Regions from separate parts of the Homo sapiens genome. Here regions 2 and 3 are each linked to region 1. Evidence: fine-mapped expression QTL. A gene starts in region 1. Each other region holds a variant in brackets. All regions are shown on one strand. Distances are from middle to middle. Region 1 holds the start of APTR (Alu-mediated CDKN1A/p21 transcriptional regulator). Region 2 has its middle 50 kb from the start of PTPN12. Region 3 overlaps APTR (Alu-mediated CDKN1A/p21 transcriptional regulator).

The links. PIP is the estimated chance that this variant, and not a neighbour inherited with it, causes the effect. A credible set is the group of variants that fine-mapping cannot tell apart.
Region 2: its variant is the best candidate, but not a certain one, in a credible set for the expression of APTR in whole blood (TOPMed, PIP 0.88).
Region 3: its variant is the best candidate, but not a certain one, in a credible set for the expression of APTR in amygdala (GTEx, PIP 0.75).

Annotation. Positions count from the first base shown.
Region 1 is chr7:77,694,021-77,699,249 of GRCh38, reverse strand. It overlaps APTR (Alu-mediated CDKN1A/p21 transcriptional regulator), which reads left to right and starts at 2,985. Exons shown (of 2, transcript NR_134254.1): 1 at 2,985-3,354. It overlaps RSBN1L (round spermatid basic protein 1 like), which reads right to left and starts at 2,791. Exons shown (of 8, transcript NM_198467.3): 1 at 2,195-2,791. The coding sequence starts at 2,780. RefSeq lists silencers at 1,571-1,670, 1,961-2,280, 2,751-2,970 and enhancers at 2,491-2,720, 1,905-2,800, 2,801-3,696.
Region 2 is chr7:77,484,252-77,489,480 of GRCh38, reverse strand. No RefSeq gene overlaps it. Among named protein-coding and RNA genes, the nearest start is that of PTPN12, 50 kb to the left of the region's middle. The variant T/C (reference allele first, on the strand shown) is at 2,964.
Region 3 is chr7:77,665,062-77,670,290 of GRCh38, reverse strand. The region is part of intron 1 of APTR (Alu-mediated CDKN1A/p21 transcriptional regulator); the gene reads left to right. Among named protein-coding and RNA genes, the nearest start is that of APTR, 29 kb to the left of the region's middle. The variant T/A (reference allele first, on the strand shown) is at 3,231.

The DNA.
Region 1 (5,229 bases):
GTTCTGACTCAGACTGTTCAATCAGCCAGCTGTGGATAATTGAGGGGTTACTGAACCATGCACAGCCAACTTAGGGCAACACTAAAAAGAGGTATATACCTAAACAAACACTTGGTCACCCATTCACTAAGATTTTTACAAAAAGCACAGAGAAATGATCATTGTATTGCAAATCAGGACTTTCATATTTGCAATTATATCTATAATAAAGGCATATATGTATTCTTGCTATACCACTTGTTAATACCGCTATTTAAGAATCTTCTTAATTCGTTAAAACAGAACATCAATTCAGTTAAATCCAAACTTTAGAAAGATATAAGTATTCCCCAAGTTACGAGGGAAAAATTTTCACCATTAAATTTACCACCAAGACACTGGAAAGGAATCTTTTTCTCTGATAGTTTTTCCTCAACAAGATAGCATTTGTGTCTGAAAAAATGAAAATCTTACAGTAGTGTTAATATCTTGTCACTACTCCAAAAAACCCACATAGGTCATGGGAAAAGATCATTCCCACATCTTAATGTAAAACCTATCACTGTTTATATTCAGGATTAATAATATTAGTGTTAACCCTCAAAAGAAGAAGGATTCTAAATGTAATTGAAAAGACTATAAAAATTCCTCTTTAACAGCCATTTCACTTTAAGGACCATTTGTGTACTCCACATTTTAAGTTAGAATTGTTAAAGAATGCTTACTTATTTCTTCTCAAATATTCCATTACTCCAACTATGTAATACTCATATTCACTTCCTCTTTCAGAGAACTTACAGCAAATGTGCAGTTTACACACCACAAACACTAGTGATGATACCAAGCTGCATATGGACAAACTTCCAGGCACTTATCTCCTAAATTTTACATATAAATTGTTAAAACAAAATAGCTTTAAAATACTAATCACCTGGAATTCCTGACTAAAAGTACCAAAATCCCATCCTCAAAACCACTTTCCTAGAAACAACACTCCCAGAAGCTGAAAGATATTTACATTGCACCAGAGTCCCTGATGGCTATGCTTAGATGTTAAAGCTTTGCTACAGGCAAAAAATATCAAGGAAGAAGTGACACTATTGCTACATGCACATGCAGCATGTTTTAAGTTGTGAAAACAAACCATTATAATCCAAACAGAATTTTTCATGATCTGAGCTACTGTTAGATCAGCAATGCTGAAACTGCTTGACATTTCTTTTTCTAAAAAACAAAAAGAGTTATTTGACAACACTGTGTAGCAGTGCACATTTATAATAAAGATTATGCGCTTTAAGCTTGCGATCACATAAAGATTTGATTTTCAACTAGTCCGTATGTTGCACTATTGTCAGATCATTGTGTATCCGTAGCTGAAGTGGTGGAAACACCTGAAAAATTATACGACTAGCCTACATTTAAAAACAAAACTGACCCTGTCTGACAAGAACCCTTAAGAATTCGCCTTTTTCTAATGCTCAAACATTCTGCAGCCGCTTGATCTGGCGAAAAATCGTCAAAGCTCCTGGTTTTATCATTTGCTGCAGGGAAAAAAAGAATATGGCTGAAAATTCTTTCAGAAGGGTGGTATTTCAAACAGGACCACCCAAAACACTTAAGAATACGCAGCGGAGAGTAGGGTGCAGGGAGGGTACCTTACGAAACAGCGCACTTCGGGCCCTGCACGCTACCTCATTTCCCTAATAGGGATGAAAAGCTCAGGCCTCTGGTAGCTTCCAGCTGACGCCAGTGCTCTCTCCACACCCCTTTTTTGACAGGATTATCCGGGGTTGAACGCTGTGTCACAAATACGAATTCCCGCGACCACGTCTAAGTGGTCTAACAATCAATCAAGCATCTTTTACAAAACCAAACCCTTCCCCCATCCCGTTCCCTCCATCTCTCTCCCTAGCCAAACAAACCTAGGAGAGTCCTCAAGATGGATTTTCACAAATCCTGCAGCGCACTAACTGGGAGGAAGAAACGATACAGAAAATAAGAGTGTCGGCCATCCCCCTCTCTGCAACCGAAATTACAGGCTCCATTTCCTGTCCCCTTGGGAACTGCAAAATCCTCTGCTGAAAACCGGACGCCTCCCAGCCCCTCCAGGCCGGCGCACGCGGCCGCCGCGCTCCCCCTTCCCGGGCCCCGTGGGCGCCAGGGGGCGGCGGGGACCCACGGCGCCCTCCCCTCCCCCTCCCCGCACGGCACCCACCTCGGGGCAGCGGCTTCACCTCCCCGTTCTCCTCCCGGGAGGCCCCGCCGGCCTCTCGGGCCCCACCGAGACCGTGCCTCCTCCTCTCCTTCTCCCGCTTCTCCTTAGGTCTGCGCGACTTGGCGTTAGCCGAGGCAGCGGCGGCGGCGGCGGGCAGGAGGAGATGGTGAGGCTGAGCGTGCAGCAGCGTAGGAGGGACCAGCAGTTTGCGCGGCACCGGCTGAGACAAGGAAGCGGAGGCTGAGGAGGGAACGGCCGTGCCAGCGGAGAAAGAGAAACTGCTCCGAGAAGAGGACGGGGAGGGAGCAGCAGACAGAGGGGCAAAGCTCCAAGACGCGGGGCTGCCATAGCTCTGAGGCGAAGGTGCTGCCGGCGGCTGCAGCTGCCTGCTGTTCCCGCCGCTGCCCCCTTCTCCGTTCACTCTCCGCGGTGCCTTCTTCTCCTCAGTCCGGACCTTCTTGGCGGACAGAGAACCCGGAGGGTCCCGGGAGGAGAGTTGCAGCTTGCCAAACGGTTCTTTCTCCGAGACGGTGGCGGTGGGGGCCGCGGCAGCGACACAGTGCACGGGGCTCGGCGGTTCCGCCATTTTGCGCTCCTGTTGTATTTACTCTCCTCCGCTAGCCGGCGCGGGGCAGGGGGCGGGCCCTCCGCGAGGGGTAGGGAAGGGGCGGAGCGGCCAGGCCACCAGCCGGCATTGCTCCATTGGGCAAGCCACGCTGAGGGATCCACCTAAGAGCCAATCAAAGGCACAAACATCAGACGAAGGGGCGGGATCGCCACAGGGACCCTCTTCGGAGGTCAGAGCTCGGCGGGGTGCGGCTAGTGGCGGAGCGCGCTGCGAGGGGAGGGCTTTCCACTGTCGCTGGCGTGAACTCGCGTGCCCGGTGGGTATCAGGGAAGAACCCCCGCCCCGGACCCCCAGATCTGCCATGGCCGAGGTAGCGATCGTCTCTGCGGCCACGAAGACTGTTTTAACTTGTACCACTTTCCCTTCCATTTTTCCTGGGGTGCCTCTCACCCTGCATCTGCGCGTTCAGCAAGCTGGATTTCGGGAATGCTCAGTTCAGAAGAGAAAAAATTGCCGGGAATCAAGTCCTTCTTTTTGTTAGTCGGTAGTCGATTGATGGGAAGTGTTCAAAATCATTCGATGTGGTGACAAGGTACGTTATTATTGCTAGATCATGTGCTGTAATCCATTGAAGGAGATAACTTCCAGCAAATCTAGAACTTTAGTATTACTTACAAGCTTGAAGGTGAGAGTCTCCCTTTGGAGACTTTTGAACTGTTGTGACTAGACCCTTAAGATTTTTATTTTATTTATTTATTTATTTATTGGGACGGAGTTTTGCTCTGTTGTCGAGGCTGGAGTGCCGTGGCGCGATCTCGGCTCACCGCAACCTCCGCCTCCCAGATTCAAGCGATTCTCCTGCCTCAGCCTCCCCAGTAACAGGGACTACAGGCGTCCGGCACCATGCTTGGCTAATTTTTGTGTTTATTAGAGACGGGGTTTCACCATGTTGGCCAGGCTGGACTCGAACTCCTGATCTCAGGTGAGCGGCCCACCTCCGCTTCCCAAAGTGCTGGGATTACAGGCGTGAGCCACCATGTGCGGCCTTAAGATTTGAATTTTATAATAATTATTATAGCCGGGCGCGGTGGCTCACACCTGTAATCCCAGCACTTTGGGAGACCGGGGCGGGCGGATCACGAGGTCAGAAGTTCGAGACCAGCCTGACCAACATGGTGAAACCCCGTCTCTACTAAAAATGCAAAAATTAGCTGGGCATGGAAGCGCGCACCTGTAATCCCAGCTACTGGGGAGGCTGGGGCAGGAGAATCGCTTGAACCCAGGAGGCGGAGGTTGCAGTGAGCCGAGACTGCGCCACTGCACTCCAGCTTGGGCGACAGGGCAAGACTCCGTCTCAAAAAATAATAATAATAATAATAATATTATTATTATTATAACGTAGACTTGCCAGGAAAAATTCGTTGGCGATTATTTATGGATGTTTGAAAAGCAAGAATTGTTTTTTTAGGTTTCTGTATTTTAGCGTTTAGTAAGCACACTGCGTGTTCGATGTTTTGTAAGCATGTGCTTTGATTTTTGCTTCGAAAATAAGCAATTTGGGGAGATGGGTTTTAGCTTAAAAGATAAGGAATGTGGCCGGGCGCGGTGGCTCATACCTGTAATCCCAGCACTTTGGGAGGCCAAGGCGGGCAGATCACAATGTCAGGAGTTCGAGACCAGCCTGGCCAACATAGTGAAACCCTGCCTCTACTAAAAATACATAATTAGCTGGGCGTAGTGGCATGCGCCTGTAGTCCCAGCTACTCTGGAGGCTGAGGCAGAAGAATCCCTTGAATCTGTAAGGCAGAGGTTGCAGTAAGCTGAGTTCGTGCCATTGCACTCCACCCGGGGCGACAGTGCCTATTTACTCATTTTTTTAAGAATATTTTTAAGAATTTTTTTTTTTTCGGCCAAGAGTGGTGGGTGGCTCACGCATGTAATCCCAAGACTTTAGGAGGCGGTGATGGGTGGATCACCTGAGGTCAGGAGTTTGAAACCAGCCTGACTGACATGGTGCAACCCCGTCTCTACTAAAAATACAAAAAAAATTAGCCAGGCGTGGTGGTGCGTGCTTGTAGTCCCAGCTCCTCGGGAGGCTAAGACAAAAGACTCGCTTGACCCCTGGAGGTGGAGGTTGCAGTGAGCTGAGATCGTGCCACTGCACTCCAGCCTGGGTGACAGAGTAAGACTCCATCTCAAAAAAAAAAAAAAGAATGTTTTGGAGTCAAATTTAATATTGGTTTATGGACTTATTTTTATGTGCCTCAAATTTTTTAAAGTAATAACAGTATTTAATATGTAACATGAAAACTTTCTAATTGGAATTGACTGGCAGCAGATGTCTTCAAGAAAATTAGCATTGGTGGGAGAGTGGACTGAGTGGATTAGGCTGGAAATCATCTGCTAACGCACTAGTTTCGTGACCTTAGTCAGGCTGCTTCACTTGTTAGGACCTCCGTTTTCTTAC
Region 2 (5,229 bases), 210 kb after region 1:
ATGCTGTTCAGGAAAGTGTTTTTATATTTACTCTTCATTGATCTAAGGATACCCTGGCCACATGGTTGAATTAATAAAGTCACATTTTGGGGAAAGTAGATGGCATAAACATTTTTGATGAGAATTTCAGCAGGAGGGTGAATAGAACAGTTGTCACGTGTAACAAAATCTTGCAGTCATCCTCCAGTTTAGCTTCCCTGCAGTGAGCATGAACTTCTGGTACAAAACATTGGAGCACCAATCAGAAAATATGTCCCTGGTGATCTGTGCACTTTTGTTAGCATAATAATAGTCTGGTAAGAAATCCACTCCCTTAAAATAGTGAAGACATAAGCTTTTGCCTGTCACAGCAAGTTTACAATGTGTTTGTGTGCTGCATTAGCATATCCCAGTACAGTTATTCTGTCCTTGGCATCCTTAATTCCTATAGGGGCTTTCTCATCAGCTGTAGTCAGTGTCTTCCTGGGGCAGTAACACAAAACAGTGATGTTTTATAAGCATTATAGACTTGTTCTGGTGTCAGATTTTCATCAGTGATAACTTGGGCACGCTCATCAATCATTGCTGCTTTATGATCAGCAGATGCTTTATCACCTCAAATTGTAAAAAAAATAATGTTGTGTCTTAAATGTATGCAGCCAGATATATTGAATATTCACAGTTCCCTTCAATTTCCAGTTCATCATAAGTCTTTGCTCATTTCATTATCAGCATGACATTAAGTGGCAAGTGTTCACTGCATCGCTGACCGATCCAATTTTTCAATACATGATCAAGACCATTATTTTTAGTTTTATGCAGTGTTTTTCTGTTTTTACTAATTTTTATTCATTATTTTTAGCATAGAACTCCAACTGTTTATCCTTCTATTGTTTCAGGTCATATATGGTGGTCATTCTGACACCATACTCTTCTATTAAGATGTTTCACATTCGCACCACTGTCCAGTTTCTCCAACAGCTTGACTTTCTGTGCTATCCTATAAACATAAATGCTTCCTCTTTTGTTGGTATCTGCAGGCCTTTTGAACATTTTTTCAGCAACATCTTTACACCACAGGGTAGAAAATAAACAAGAAAACACAAGGAGCAATGCATGTAGGTCTTTACTACATGTAGGGCATTTTGGGGAACCGGCTGTTGGCACATCCAGTCTGCACATGTGCTATTTTATTACGTTTTATGGGTGTGCTTTCATGGAGGAATTTGGTCATGCACAGAAAATATATATTGCAGCTGAACTGGGGTGGAAGGGTCTTTTTTCCCTTGGAGACATTGAATAAACTCTGTGTTGTATGCCTGCATTTTTACTGTGATCCATCACTTGGGGTCAGGTGTATCAGACTTTGGAGAATTTTGGATTTCAAATTAGGGATGCTCAACCTTTGTGTGTGTGTGTGTGTGTGTGTGTGTGTGTGTGTGTGTGTGTGTGTGTGTGTGTGTTTTGAGACGGAGTCTTGCTCTGTTGCCCAGGCTGAAGTGCAGTGGCGCAATCTCGGCTCACTGCAAGCTCTGCCTCCCGGGTTCACGCCATTCTCCTGCCTCAGCCTCCGGAGTAGCTGGGACTACAGGCACCCGCCACAACGCCCAGCTAATTTTTTGTATTTTTAGTAGAAACGGGGTTTCATCGTGTTAGCCAGGATGGTCTCGATCTCCTGACCTCGTGATCTGCCCGTCTCGGCCTCCCAAAGTGCTGGGATTACAGGTATGAGCTACCGCGCCCGGCCAACCTTTGTGCATTCTTAATCCCATCCACAGCATCTCAAGTTAAGTAACTTGGCCAACAAAGTGCACCAAGTGGGCGTGATAATGATAGCAATGACATGAGGAAACTGTTTCCAAAGGGGATTAGGCAACCTCCCCAAAGTCGCTCACTAAGAAAGTGGCAGAGCCAGTTCTAACTCCATAGTCCAAAAGCAGCACTGTCAGCCTGGAAAGACTACAGAAACTTATAATCTTGGCCAGGCGCGGTGGCTCACGCCTGTAATCCCAGCACTTTGGGAGGCCGAGGCGGGTGGATCACAAGGTCAGGAGTTCAAGACCAGCCTGGCCAAGATGGTGAAACCCCGTCTCTACTAAAAACACAAAAATTAGCCGCGCGTGGTGGTGGGCACTTGTAATCCCAGCTATTCGGGAGGCTGTGGTAGAGAACTGCTTGAACCCGCGAGGCATAGGTTGCAGTGAGCCGAGATTGTGCTACTGCACTCCAGCCTGGGTGACAGAGTGAGAGTCCGTCTGAAAAATAATAAAAAAAAGGAAACTTATAATCTTAGAATTGAAAGAGACTTCATAGATCATCTAGTTTGTTCAAACTCCTCCAGCACACCAATTTTACATATGTAGAAACTGAAGTACAATAATATTAATGTGCTTTCAAATGAGGATAAGATGTGAAAGTATTAGTTCAATTGAATTCTTTGTTGAGTGTGTTGTAGGTATTCACATTTTAGTAAGTAAAGAAGAGGATGCTGTGATAATATCTGGACAGAAGGATGTTGCTGGCAGTGGGCTAATGATCAGTGAATGAAGTGAACAAGATCCAGGTGTTTGTGCTATACTGGGCTCCCCACCCACATTCCTCATAGTTCCCCTATTTTCCTGTCATATGCTTATAAACTGTTGAGGGCAACATGGGAGTTTAGAGAAATCATAAAGGTGTATTTTAGGAGTATGCAGTTCCCCCAAATTAGCCTGTTCTTTACCAGTTTCCAGTTGGAAGTACTTTTGTTATCAAAAACAATTACAAGAAATTGCCCATTAAAAGGAAATATGAGTAGATCTGTAAGCCTGAACTGTAAGGTTCTCTAGATGGTCTGTTTACTAGATCTCTTGCAGAATAAAAATCATTTGTAATGTGATAGGGTCTTTTTTTGCTTTGGACAGAAATGAATACTTTACTCATGGTATTTCATTTTTAACAACTCCTGGCCTGGCACGGTGGCTCACGCCTGTAATCCCAACACT[T/C]TGAGAGGCCGAGGTGGGCAGATCACCTGAGGTCGGGAGTTCGAGACCAGCCTGACCAACATGGAGAAACCGTCTCTACTAAAAATACAAAATTAGCTGGGCATGGTGGCGGGCGCCTGTAATCCCAGCTACTCAGGAGGCTGAGACAGGAGAATCACTTGAACCCAGGAGGCGGAAGTTGCGGTGAGCCTAGGTCGCACCATTGCACTCCAGCCTGGGCAACAAGAGCAAAACTCTGTCTCAAAAAAAAAAAAAAAAAAAAAAGGGCAACTCCTTTGCTTCTCATTCAAAGCAAAGCTCATCCTCCCCTACTATCTTCAGTCATGTCCAGTTAAGTGTACACACTCCACAAAGCTACCTTCTATCAAAGAACTTTTTCCTGTGAGAGAGCCACTTCTTCCAGGATACAGATTCTACAAACTCCCTCTCTCTAAGGAGCTGGTTCCAGTGTTTCTCATCCTTATAATCAGGAAGTTCATCTTTGCGTTTACCATATACAATCCACCACATTTCTCCTGGCTGTGCTTGCTGTGCCACTGGGACAAGCTAGACAAAATTCAGTTACTAGGGAACCTTACCAAACTCTCAAGGGATTGGCTACTGCCATGTGAAGTACCAGGACAAATTGTAATGTGCCCACCATGCCCTTTAAGTGACAGTAATCCCCCTCTGATGCCCAGCTCAGTCTGGCCACTCCTGGAGATTTTAGTACTCCCAATTTATTGTAGCCCTCTTCCTCACATTCCCCAGCAAAACAACTACTATTAGCTATTAAGTGTGGAGAAAAGTGATTATCTAATTAAATATTTTCCATTTAACTATGAATAATTTTAAAAAGACTTTTTTCTCCCCAAGTATTTACTTTTTAGAGTAAGCCCCTATTGATTAAGGAATAAAATGCTTTTTACTGAATAATATTAGTAGTTGGGGCTAATATTGCCTCCTTTCAGCCCTGCTTAGAAATAAGTTTAGAATAAGCACAATCAGAAACGACAAAGGTGCCATTACAACTGATTCCAAAGAAATACAAAAGATCCTCAGAGACTCCTGTGCACATCTCTACACACGTAAACTAGAAAACCTAGAAGAAATGGATAAATTCTTGGAAATGCACAAACTCCCAAGATTGAATCAGGAAGAAATTGAAACCCCAAACAGACCAATATTGAATTCCAATATTGAAACAGTAATAAAAAAATCTACCAATCAAAAAAGCCCAGGACCAGATGGATTCACAGCTGAATTCTCCAGACGTACAAAGAAGGGCTGGTATCAATTCTACTGAAACTATTCCAAAAAATTGAGGAGGAGGGACTCCCTCCTAATACATTCTATGAAGCCAGCACCACCCTGATACCAAACCTGGCAAAGACGCAAGGAAACAAGACAACGACAGGCCAGTATTCCTAATGAATACAGACGCAAAAACCCTCAACAAAATACGAGCAAACCAAATCCAATAGCACATCAAAAAGTTAACTCACCATGATCAAGGAGGCTTCATTCCTGTGATGCAATGTTAGCTCAACATATGCAAATCAATAAATGTGATTCACCACATAAACAGAATTGAAAACAAAAACCGTATAATCATCTCATTAGACTTGGAAAAAGCTTTTGATAAAATCTAACATCGTTTCATGATTAAAAAACCCTCAACAGGCTAGAGGCATCAAAGGAACATACATTAAAGTAATGAGCCATCTCTGAGAAACCCACAGCCAACGTCATGCTAAACAGGCAAAAACTGGAAGCATTCCCCTTGAGAACAAGACAAGGATACCCACTCTCACCGAGAATCCCCACTCTCACCACTCCTATTCAACATAGTACTGGAAATACTAGCCAGAGCAGTCAGGCAAAAGAAAGAAAGAAAGACATTCAGATAGGAAAAGAAAAAGTCAAACTATCTCTCTTTGCAGACGATATGATTCTATACCTAGAAAACTCTAAAGACTCTGCTAAAAGACTCCTGGAACTGGAAAATGGCTTTAGTAAAGTTTCAGGATACAAGATTAAATGTACAAAAATCAGTAGCATTTCTACACAACAATTATGTTAAAAATTAGAGCCAACTCAAGAATACAATCCCATTTACAATATCCACAAAAGAATAAAATACCTGGGAATACGACCAAGGAGATGAAAGATCTCTACAAGGAGAACTACAGAACACTTTTGTAAGAAATCACAGGGCCAGGAGCGATGGCTCACGCCTGTAATCCCAGCACTTTGGGAGGCCAAGGCGGGTGGATCAGCTGAGGTC
Region 3 (5,229 bases), 29 kb after region 1:
CTATGTTGCTCAGGCTGGTCTTAAACTCCTGAGTTCTCCCACCTCAGCCTCCAAAAGTGCTGGGATTACAGGCGTCAGCTACCATGCCTATCCACATTTTGTTTTTTTGTTTTGGTTTGGTTTGGGTATGTCACTTTTTGATATTAGGTGATCCAAAATAATTTATCTTGGTATGCAAGATGTTCAAGGAACAAACATCTACAATAAGGTACCAAAGTTTTGAATTATTTATCTGTGTATATGTATGTATACCCACACAGACCATTATGAGGCATTTTAGAAATCACTTTCTCACATGCATTCCAATATAATTTCCTGAGAGAGAAAGGAGTTCCATGCAGGGAGTTATACATAAACCACAGCCTACTTTTATGGCCATTTTGAATTACTTTTGTATTTCAAATTCACTTTTTAAAACTTCACCCATGGGGCGGGAGGATTGCTTGAGCCCAGGAGTTCGGGACAGCAGTGAGGTATGATCATGCCACTGCACTCCAGCATGGGCAACAAAGCAAGACCCCCATCTCTAAAAAAATCAATAAATAAAGGAAACTTCACCCATACCCACAGAAGAGAAAATTGTGAATGAGTGCATCAACATCTACAGTACACAAAAACAGTAGTCTCTGAACATTGTTAGTAGGGTCCTAACAGTTATGATAGCCAAGTGAAAACTCTCAAAGGAAAGTGAAAATATTCCTTATATCAATAACATGGAGGGAATCTACCAATTTTATGTTTTTAACAATAAATTTTATGCCTTTTCAAATAATGTGTACTTGTTTTATTGGTGTTGTGAGTAAAGGCTGGGGGAGAAATCATGATATTTAAAAATTAGATATGCTACATTTTGGCAATTCTTACATAACTGATTTCACTATTGTTGAATTCTTAACATTAAGTGAACATCTTTTGTTTTTCTTTTTGTTTTTTGTTTTGTTTGACAGGGTCTCACTCTGTCATCCTGGTTGAAGTGCATTGGTGCGAACACAGCTCACTGCAGCCACAGCTTTCTGGGCTCAAGTGATCCTCCCCCCCAACTTCAGCTTCCCAAGTAGCTGGGACTGCAGGTGTACGCCTGCCCAGCTAATTTTTTATGTTTTATAGAGGCAGTGTCTCGCTTGTTGCCTAGGCGGATCTTGAACTCCTGGGCTTAAGTGATCCTCCCACCTTAGCCTCTCATAGAGTTGGGATTATAGGTGTGAGCCACTGGACCCAAGGCTTTTCTTTTTTTGAAACAGTCTCACTCTGTTGCCCAGGCTGGAGTGCAGTGGCATTATCAGAGCTCACTGCAGCCAAGACTTCCCAGGTTCAAGCATCCTCCCGCCTGAGCCTCCCTAGTAGCTGGAACTACAAGCACTTACCATTACACCAGAATAATTTTTTTAATTTTTAATTTTTGTAGAGATGGGGTCTCACTATGTTGCCCAGGGTAGTCTCGAACTCATGGGCTCAAGTGATCCCCCTGCCTCGGCCTCCCAAAGTGCTGGGTTTATAGGCATGAGCCACCATGATGCCCAGCCTTAAGTGAATATTTAACAAAATGATTTTGTAGTATTATTTTCTTCATTTACTAATAAAATTGTTGCAGGGTGTTTTTTTTTTTTTCCTTTTTTCCCCAAATTTGAGTACATCCATGGAAATACATCATACAGATAAACATCATCCATTCTTTGTGATAATGTGGAAAAAAGATTAAGAAACTGCCCTTTAATACTATTTGTATTAAAGAGTATTATTTGGGGATATTTGGGGATAGTTGAGAAATCACTAACCGTTGATGGAAATTTGATTGGGTTTTTTGAGGATAGTCCAAAAGTCATCAAGTACCGATGGAACTTTATCATTCTAAATTCCTTAGAGACTTAAAATTATTTCTTGGAAACTTAAACTTCAGGCTAATGTTGTAATATCACAAGCATCCATGAACGTATCATTTTAAGTAAGAGGTGGTATCTTCTACTCTCCTCCTCTTCAGTCCAGGCCACTGTGATAATGTGCTTATAGATGTGGTAATGCCTCCTCTTGGTACCAAAGCCACATTCATTAGCTTTGTCAAAATAAATGATACCAGTGATACTAATTTCTTGCACTCTCAGTGATGGAACAGGATTTCAATGAAACAGTCCCTTTAGTTTTTACTTTTTTATCACAGCCCCCTTAAATTACAACCCCCTTAAATTAGAACTCTGGTGTGAATCTGTATGAGCTAGAATGGGTGAGAGGTTACCAGGACAGACCCTCGGAATTATCCTTTCACTCAAACACTGGCCTAGGCAGAGATCATTCTTCATGATCTCTGTGCATTTCTGCACATCTGGTGAGTGAAGCACTGACTGCCCTTCTTTCAGGACTCTCTCTTCAGGGATGTTTGTAGAGCAAACAGTCTTAGAGGATAGGAATAAGGTTTTCCAGAGCAAAGGGCAAGCAAGTTTATTGCCACTATAAAAGATTCAGGCTCCTGAAGCTGAAGGTTCCCCTTCTGTAAAGCAGCCCACTGCAAGGGCAGATGCCATCTGGCCTTCTTTGCCTCTCCCTATGGAAATTGGGACTTTGCTAACTAATGCCAAAAACAAACCACAAAACTGATACTCTGGCTATTGCTATGGCTATTGCTGTGAGTAAGAAACTCTTCATTCTGGCTCAGGACTATGATATCTTCTGCCAGCATCCATGTGCCAGGCGAACTTTTTAGCTTGTAAGTTGGGTGAAATCTGAGATTGTTTACGGTTTTTCACATTGCCTTAAACCAAATGCACGCGCTCTGACTCCCAAAAGGCTATTTTGTCCCTTATGTGAATATATCCTCCGGTGGACTAACTCCACCAGTGTTCCAGATGGACGCCCCCATGGCTGAGTCCTAGAGGGAACAGAGCTTAGACTTAAATCGGGACCCCTGCTACACAACTCTGCCAGTGTAAATTATTGTCATTATCCAAAGGCAGACTTCTCACTGTGCTCATTATGATGCCTATGTCACAACTAAGGAGGCCCTCCCCCTTGACATACACTCTGCCTCTGTCCTGCCGCTTTATATCCCATGGCTCCCATGAAGTCTTCCTCAGTTATTCCACCTGTGTTAGATCTTTTTCAGTTGCATGGAACAGAAACTCAACTTATAATTAAAGATTAAACGCTGGCTAATGACCAAAAACTAAAGTGATGAAGACATTCATTACTTGGTTTGTTTATCCTTGTATTCTCACAGTTAATTTCCTTGATTAAAAAAA[T/A]ATATATATATACTGACTGACGGGGCGTGGTGGCTCACATCTGTAATCCCAGCACTTTGGGAGGCCAAGGCAGGTGGATCACTTGAGGTCAGGAGTTCAAGACCAGCCTGGCCAACCTGGTGAAACCGTGTCTCTACTAGAAATACCAAAAAATGGCTGGGCACGGTGGCTCACAGCTGTAATCCCAGCACTTTGGGAGGCCGAGGTGGGTGGATCACGAGGTCAGGAGATCAAGACCATCCTGGTCAACGTGGTGAAACGCCATCTCTACTAAAAACACAAAAATTAGCCAGGCATGGTGGCACGTGCCTGTAATCCCAGCTACTCAGGAGGCCTAGGAAGGAGAATCGCTTGAACCAGGGAGTCAGAGATTGCAGTGAGCTGAGATCGAGCCACTGTACTCCAGCCTGGCGATAAAGTGAGAGTCTGTCTCAAAAAAATAAAAATAAAAAGAAGAAATATGGCCTGGTGCAGTGGCTCACGTCTATAATCCCAGCACTTTGGGAGGCCAAGGCGAGCAGATCACCTGAGGTCGGGAGTTCAAGAATAGACTGACCAACATGGAGAAACCCTGTCTCTACTAAAAAAACAAAATTAGCCGGGCTTGGTGGTGCATGCCTGTAATCCCAGTTACTTGGGAGGCTGAGGCAGGAGAATCACTTGAACTCGGGAGGAGGAGGTTGCAGTGAGTCGAGATCACACCACTGTACTGCAGCCTGGGCAACAGAGTAAGATTCTGTCTCAAAAAATAAAAATAAAATAAATAAAAGTGCTGACTGAGTTTATTTCTTGGTTTAAAATGGAAACTTATTAAGTTCAGGCATAAATGTAAAATGAAAACATCCTTTTACTAATAACCCTAATGGCATTCTTGTCTTTAGGATGAGGAACGTAAGCCTGTAACAGAAGGAGCCTAAGAGCCCATTTACATTTCTGGAGCTAAAGGCAATGTACCCCAGAGACCCATTTTATCCCCTTCATTTTCTTCTTACCAGAAGAACAATGCAGGATCCTTGCTTCTACACATTCCTGGGCATTTTCTTCTCCGTATCTTTTTTCCAAAAGATATCCTTTCCTTCTTACACAGAAAGGTGGAGAAAAAAAAGTCAAAGGATACAATTTCCACTTTCTTTAACCCATGCTGTGTGCCCAATTATGTCTCCCCAAAAATTCATATATTGAAGTCCTTAAATACCCAAGAATGTGAGTGTATTTGGACACAGGATCTTTAGAGAGGTAATTAGAGTAAAATGAGGTCATTAGAGCAGGCCTCCTTTTTCCCTTTTAATAATAGATCCCTGGCTGGGCGCAGGGAATCGCTTGAACCAAGGAGGCGAAGGTTGCAGTGAGCCGAGATCGCGCCACTGCACTCCAGCCTGGGCGACAAGAGCGAAACTCCATCTCAACAATAAAAATAAAAATAAAAATAAATAATAGATCCCCTCTTCACTCAAAATGATGGGTGGGCACATGACTTCCCAGCTGGAGACATTTCCCAGCTTCCCTTGTAAATCAGTGTGGCCATTTGAACTAGGTTTTGGTTAATGAGATATAAGTGGAAGTGATCAGCATTCTTCTGCTTTAATGACCTCAAGAATGAACTTGCCTACTCTCCACACATTGCCTTACTCAGGGCTGGAATATGGACAGGGTACTGGTGAGCTACTTCAACCCCATGTGGTTGAAGACAACTGCCTGTTACTCAGATATGGAATCTAAATGCAGAGGCAAGTAGAGACATGGCCAGCTGGGTCCCTGGATGAACTCATGTCTATCTTCACAACTGTTACAGGGGAGAAATAAACATTTCTTATTTAAAACAGTTATTTCAGCAAGTTAGCCTAAACATTAACTAATACAGCCAGCAGTAAACTAGTGCTTTTGTGTCAGGCAGTGTATTCAGCTTCTATATAGATTATCTGCTTTAACCCTCACAACAGCCCTGTGATCTTGATGCTGTTATTAACCCTGTTCTATCAATGAAGAAACTGAGGCACAG